Homo sapiens: one gene and its partner. The protein of the gene in region 2 purifies or fractionates together with the protein of the main gene of each other region. This does not show direct contact. Each region holds a gene or a part of one and is shown on either strand. Other genes may lie near its edges.

Region 1 (3,819 bases), on a different chromosome or scaffold from region 2:
TATACATTTACATATACATACACACACACACACACACACACACACACACACACACAATACATGGTTTAGGAACTTAACTTGATGTTTATTATTATTTTTCAAAGTCCAATAAAGGAGATACGTGGGAAAATGAGTTATTTTTCCACAGTCCCTAACCCTTCCCCGAAATAGCTCTGCTAGCCCCAGCCACACACACACCCTGGCCACCACACACACACACACACCCCACACACACATACATACATACACACACACACACACACACACACACCCCCCAGTGATCAGGCCAAGTCACTGGAGCCCAAGGCCGCTGAGAATACAATTGGTCACTCCATATGCCTGTCTGGACACGTCTGTCTCTAAGGACACGCTTCTGAGAGGCTACCAGATGTCTACTCCATTTCAATAGTATCAACAACTAATCTAGCAAAAAGTATCAGTAATTGTTTTATGTTAGGAATTTTCATAAAGTGAATAATTTAAAATTTGTTAATAGAGCTATTTAAAGGAGTTATATAAGAAACTCTTTCAAAAGAGCAAATACCTTATCTAATACAGTCTTAAAAAGATTTGATTTTAGGGGCCAGGTCTCATGTTGCCATGTATGGCAGAAAGTGTCTTGCACAGAATAATGTTAAATATCTGTTACTTGATAAAATCTACACTTGCACATTTTGCATTTGCTCTTAAAAATATTTAAGTGGCCGGGCGCAGTGACTCACGCCTGTAATCCCAACAGTTTGGGAGGCCAAGGTGGGCGGATCACAAGGTCGGAGATCGAGACCATCCTGGCTAACATGGTGAAACCCCGTCTCTATTAAAAATACAAAAAATTAGCCAGGTGTGGTGGTGAGCGCCTGTAGTCCCAGCTACTCGGGAGGCTGAGGCAGAATGGCGTCAACCCGGGAGGCGGAGCTTGCAGTGAGCAGAGATGGCGCCACTGCACTCCAGCCTGGGCAACAGAGCAAGCTGGGTGACACACAGTGAGACTCCGTCTCAAAAAAAAAAAAAAAAAAAAAAAAAAAAAAGGCAAGGCATGGGAATCAAAGCAATTGGTTTTCTGGCTATAATCTGAGGTTTAATAAGCTTTCAATTACTTGTTAAAGAGGTTTTTTTGTCCACATACCTTATCAGTGTCTATTCCAGACATAAACTCCTGTTCCACGGTTAATTTATCAAAAAAGTCTTCAGAAGCTAAAATGAAATTAGCAAATTTGCAACTTAGAAATTAAATGTTAATTTACTTGAGTGGCATGCTTTTATACACAGAGCACGATTCAGAAACTAGACATGTGGCTGGGCACGGTGGCTCACACCTGTAATCTCAGCACTGTAGGGGGCCGAGGTGGGTGGATCACTTCAGGCCAGGAGTTCAAGACCAGCCTGACCAACATGGCCAAACCCCATCTCTACCAAAAACACAAAAATTAGCTGGGTATGGTGGCACACACCCGTAGTCCCAGCTACTCGGGAGGCTAAGGCACAAGAATCACTTGAGGCGGGGAGGCGGAGGTTACAGTGAGCCAAGATCACACCATTGCTCTCCAGCCTGGGCAACAGAGCGAGACTCTGTCTCAAAAGAAAAGAAACCAGACATCATGCAAAAAAGCAAGCAAGCAATAAGTTCAAGTCATCACCTGAAGAAAATCTTTTAGGAAACATGGAAAACGCTAGGCCTCTGCACTCCTAAGTTACACTAGATACAGTCGACAAGTGCACTCTTTTGTATCCTTAGGATTTCAGTACAGACCCCAGAATGAGCGTCAGTATGAATGAAAGCTAATTTCTCAAGAACATTTCATTTTCATCATTAGGTTCAACCCAATTTCAACTGGTTTCCACTCCTATGAACAGGGAAACAAAGGACTGATTTTCCGATAACTGTGATTTACTTAAGATTCGAAGTATACTTCATAAAACAATCTCCTACTCAGCTTTTACAGCCCTGTGTTGTAACAAACAAACAAACTCATGTCTGCTTTAATAGATGTCTTCTGAGCTCTTTCAAAATACTCAACATATACTCTTTGTACCAATTCTGCACAGAATATTCAAGGGAAGAACATGCGCCAATAAGTAATCCTTCAAAAAAGGAAAAAAGCTGCTGGCCGCGGTGGCTCATGCCTGTAATCCCAGCACTTTGGGAGCCAAGGCAGGCGGATCACCTGAGGTTGGGAGTTTGAGACCAGCCTGACCAACATGGTGAAACACCATCTCTAGTAAAAATAGAAAATAAGCCAGGCGTGGTGGCAAGTACCTGTAATCCCAGCTACTTGGGAGGCTGAGGCAGGAGAATCACTTGAACCCGGGAGGCAGAGGTTGCGGTGAGCCAAGATTGTGCCATTGCACTGCAGCCTGGGCAACAAGAGTGAAACTCCGTCTCAAAAAAAAAAAAAAAAGAAAAAAAGCTAGACTAAAAAAATTAACCATCTCAGATTATGATGGCAAACTTATGGATAATTTTTTTCTCTTATCTACATTCCAAATATTTTTCATATAAATGATAATGAAAAAATTTGAGTTAAAAAATGGACCCTTCCTCTCTTTCTCTTTTTCTTTCTTTCGTTATTTCGAGATGGAGTCCTGCTCTGTCGCCCAGGCCGGAGTGCAGTGGTGCAATCTTGGCTCACTGCAACCTCTGCCTCCCGGTTCAAGCAATTCTCCTGCCTCAGTCTCCTGAGTAGCTGGGATTACAGGTGCCCGCCACCACACCTGGCTAATTTTTGTATTTTTAGTACAGATGGTGTTCCACTATGTTGGCCAGGCTGGTCTCGAATGCCTGACCTCAGGCGATCCACCTGCCTCGGCCTCCCAAAGTGGTGGGATTACAGACATGAGCCACCTCGCCCAGTCTTTTTTTTTTTTAATGGAGTCTCGCTCAACCAGGCTGGAGTGCAGTGGCGTGATTTCAGCTCACTGTAACCTTTGCCTCCAGGGTTCATGTGATTCTCATGCCTCAACCTCCTGAGTAGCTGTAACTACAGGCATGTGCCACCATGCCCAGCTAATTTTTGTATTTTTAGTAGAGACAGGGTTTCGCCATGTTGCCCAGGCTGGTCTTCAATTCCTGGACTCAAGTGATCTGCCTGCCTCAGCCTCCCGAAGTGCTGGGGTTACAGATGTGAGCCATCATGCCTGGCCAACAAATGGAACATTCTTTTTGTTTTGTTTTTCGAGATGGAGTCTCACTCTGTCACCCAGGCTGGAGTGCAGTGGCGTGATGTCGGCTCACTGCAACCTCCGCCTTCCAGGTTCAAGCAATTCTCCTGCCTCAGCCTCCCAGGTAGCTGGGACTACAGATGCATACCACTGTGCCTGGCTAATTTTTGTATTTGTAGTAGACATGGGGTTTCATCATGTTGGCCAGGCTGGTCTCAAACTCCTGACCTCAAGTGATCTGCCCGTCTTGGCCTCCCGAAGTGCTGGGATTACAGGCATGAGCCACCATGCCCCGCCTGGAATATCCTTAACTATTAACATATGTATACTTCATTAACACTGAGAAGAACACGTGGTATTAAGACAGAGCTGACTCTCCCGAAGAGGCATTGTGGTGTTGATGACCTAGGTGTCAAACGTTGTATGTGCAAGTAGCCCCAGACTGAAACAATCATTACAAAGGATACTCACTAGTGACATCTTTGATCAATTCTGCAATTGAGGTATGGTTTGCAAGCGAGCCCCTTGCTGCCTGCATGTGGGGCAACTGGGAAACAAACTGCTTGATCTCCCCCACGGTCTTAGCATTGTGTCTTTCCTGAAATAAACAAGAGAGCAGTGCCTCAAGCAGGGAAGATAGTTTATTTATTTTATTTTTTT
Region 2 (3,819 bases):
TGGGCGACGAGCGAAACTCTGTCGCAAAAAATAAATAAATAATATAAATACATAAATAAATATTGAAAAGTACAAAACTGAGACCCTTTAAGCAGGGTGGTGAGTACACACAGGTGTTCTGTCATCATTTAGACCTTACAGTGTGTGTGTGTGTGTGTGTGTGTATTTTCCGTTAATGTGAAGTATTTTGCAGTAAAACTCCTTTGGGGAAGAAATGTATGTGTTCTCTGCTTTTGGATGTATGGAGCATTGCTCACTCAGTGAGCAGCAGCACTCCCAGAGAATCTGGAAAGACTGTAACCCCAGATGGGTGTGTGCCAGCTACAGAGGGTACCTGTCTTCTTCTTCTTCTTCTTCCTTTTCACTTTGATAGGCTTCACGACAAGCTCCTGGTCAAAGTCCTCTGAGCTGATGGCGTTGAATCTCTGTGACAGGGGCTGGCTGCCCTTGCCCAGCTCAGGGGTGGCCTGGAGCCCAGGGGGCAGGAGCCCGGAGCCGCTGTCGGTGGAGTTGAGCGAGCTGCTCCTGCTCCTTGGCTCGCTGGCCACGGAGCTGGCCATGGAAGAGCCTCTGAGCCTCGTCTCAGAAACTGTGGCCCCTGGCAGCTTCTCCGCTTGCTGCACGTGGACACGCTCTGAGCATCCAGACATCTCCAGACCATCTCTCACTAAGAAAGAAGAGTCTGGTTTTACCACTGGTGATCCAAGAGAGAGCTGATGTGCACTTATCCACGTTTGCTAGCCCTAAATACCAGTTGTCACAGAGGCACCAGCCAGCTAAAGAACTGAATGATTCTAAATTCATAGAAACCAGCAAAACTAGGATGGGCACGGTGACTCACGCCTGTAATCCCAGCACTTTGGGAGGCCAAGGCGGGCGGATCACAAGGTCAGGAGATCAAGACCATCCTGGCTAACACAGTGAAACCCCGTCTCTACTAAAAATACAAAAAATTAGCCGGGCATGGTGGCGGGCGCCGGGGGTCCCAGCTACTTGGGAGGCTGAGGCAGGAGAATGGTGTGAACCTGGGAGGCAAAGCTTGCAGTGAGCCGAGATTGCGCCACTGCACTCCAGCCTGGGCAACACAGTGAGACTCCGTCTCAAAAAAAAAAAAAAAAAAAATCCACCAAAACTAAAAGAATCATACAAAAGACTCTAAGAAACAGTTTTTGTTCTTCAAGAAGCTCATATATTAAAATCAGTAAAATAATTTGCCATAGCTTTCTTTTTATATTTATTTATTTATTTATTTTTGAGACGGAGTCTCAAAATTTAGCAGGGTGTGGTGGTGCACGCCCATAGTCCCAGCTACTTGGGAGGCTGAGGTGGGAGAATCATTTGAGCCTGGGAGGTGGAGGTTGCAGTGAGCTGAGATCATGCCACTGCACTCCAGCCTGCACGACAGAGTGAAACCTGTCTCAAAAAAAAAAAAAAAAAAGTAAAAAAATACTAAGAATACAGCATTTCTCGCTTCAATTTACAAATTATTTACAAATGAGAGATGCCTGTGTATAACAAAACAGCTTAGTTATACTTCATACTAAGACTCTGCCTTGAATATACTTTAAGATTACTCAAAGGGCATTTGAAAAATACATGTGTACCTGTAATTAAGTTTCCTGGAAGAGGGAAAGGTAATTTTCCATTAGAACAAACTCAAGACAGAGAAGTCCATTACCACACAGCATCAAGGCCAGTAGACCGCAGAGTGAGAACAGGCATGTGAGTACCTGTCTCCTGTCCCCAAGCCCAAGGGCCAGTGAGCTTCCCACTGCAGTGGACTCATCTTTTCTGCAACACGACACCACAGGGCACAAGGCCAGAGCAGTTCCAGCTACAGTACCCTCAACACAAGACCACAGCCCACTTTGATCCATTCGCCATCCTCTCTTTATCGGGGATCCTCCGTGTGCCAGACACAGGGCTAGCTGCTGGGACATGGCAGTCCATAAGACACAGGAATTCCTGCCCTTGAAGCACCCACATTCTATTGAGGGCATGTGTTAGGGGCAGACTGCAGGCAATGAAGTGTACACTGGAGACTGGAGGGGAGGACTCTGCTGTGAAGCGACTTGCTGAAGATTACATAACTTAATGGCAGATCTTGCCTAGAGCTCCCTGTCCAATAGGCAGCCACCAGCTACTTGTAAGTATTGAAATTCAAATTGATCAAAATTGAACAAAATTTAGGCTGGGCGCGGTGGCTCATGCCTGTAATCCCATCACTTTGGGAGGCTAAGGTGGGAGGACTGCCTGAGCTCAGGAGTTCGAGACCAGCCTGGGTAACATGGTGCATGGTGAAACCCCCTTTCTACTAAAATACAAAATATTAGCCTGGTGTGGTGGTGCACACCTGTAATCCCAGCTATTCGGGAGGCTAAGGCAGGAGAATCGTTTGAACCCAGGAGGTGGAGGTTGCAGTGACCAGAGACTGCACCACTGCACTCTAGCCTGGGATACAGAGCAAGACTCTGTCTCAAAAAATAAAATAAAATAAAATAAAAATTAAACAAAATGTAAAATTCATCTCTCAGCTGCACTTGCTATATTGCAAGTACTCAGCAGCCACACATGGACAGGGACTGCCTACCAGACAGGGCAGATGGGAGCATCTTCATCACTGCAGAAAGCTCTATGGGCAGCAGAGGTCCAGAGCTTAGCCTGGTGGCTCCAAGTCACCACCCTTCCTGAAAGCCATTCTAACCCTTTGATGACACTGTCTGAGGGGCCCCCAGCTCATAAACTCAAGAGTCAGAGCTTATTCACTTCTTATACAAATTATGTTTTGGAATATTCACCCCAATTTGCCCTCTCTGACATCAGAGGTAATGGTAGTGAGGAGGAGGGTGATGGGGTCCACATGGCTGTTGTTGCCACCATGAGGAACAAGTTCCCCGAGGAACCCAAATATATAAAGCATGTGGATGTCCGCAAGAGGACACATATTAGGATTCTTTGCTCATTAAAATTTGGGCTTGTATGAATTACCAAAAAATGTCAAAAGCACAGAGAAAAATAAATCCTACAAGGAAGAACTGAGTTAAGGGTAAACGGTATGTCCCAGATGACAGATTTAAATATTCTAAAACTCTATGCAAATCTATGTCTTTTGGAGCATTAATCCCACATACTGTCTCAGACGGAGAGCAGGGATCAGTAAAGTGGTTTCTGATTTTTCCTTCCTCCTTTCTCAATCTCCCCATCTTCCACAACCATGAAAGCAACTCCACTAAATGTGAGACTATCTGATGTAAGCCTTAAAGTAGGTGACTTTCAAGAAATGTACTGTAAATGCTATTTTAACAATCAGAGGAGCGGCCGGGCACAGTGGCTCACGCCTTTAATCCCAGCACTTTGGGAGGCGGAGGCAGGCGGATCGCCTGAGGTCGGGAGTTTGAGACCTGCCTGACCAACATGGAGAAACCCTGTCTCTACTAAAAATACAAAATTAGCCTGGCATAATGGCGCATGCCTGTAATCCCAGCTACTCAGGAGGCTGAGGCAGGAGAATAGCTTGAACCTGGGAGGCAGAGGTTGCGGTGAGCTGAGATCGCCTCATTGCACTCTAGCCTGGGCAACAAGAGCGAAACTCCATCTCAAAAAAAAAAAAAAAGAATCAGAGGAAACCCTCCAAATCCTCCAAGTTCAAATAAAGTTGCAATAGTTTAGCAAAATAATGGTAAGTTTTTGGTTTTGTTTTTGAGATGAGGTCTCACTCTGTCATCCAGGCTGGAGTGCAGTGGTGCAATCTTAGCTTACAGCAACCTCTGCCTCCCAGGCTCAAGCGATCCTCCCACCTCAGCCTCCCGAGTACTTGAG

Evidence for each region.
Region 1: the proteins of TECPR2 (region 2) and VPS33A purify together in Homo sapiens (affinity purification with mass spectrometry; one large-scale study listed by BioGRID and IntAct). This does not show direct contact.

Annotation. Positions count from the first base shown.
Region 1 is NC_000012.12:122,238,752-122,242,570, forward strand, and holds part of VPS33A (vacuolar protein sorting-associated protein 33A), read right to left. Parts: intron 3,758-3,819; coding exon 3,631-3,757; intron 1,195-3,630; coding exon 1,127-1,194; intron 1-1,126.
Region 2 is NC_000014.9:102,428,644-102,432,462, reverse strand, and holds part of TECPR2 (tectonin beta-propeller repeat-containing protein 2), read right to left. Parts: intron 668-3,819; coding exon 335-667; intron 1-334. UniProt on the Homo sapiens protein: Probably plays a role as positive regulator of autophagy.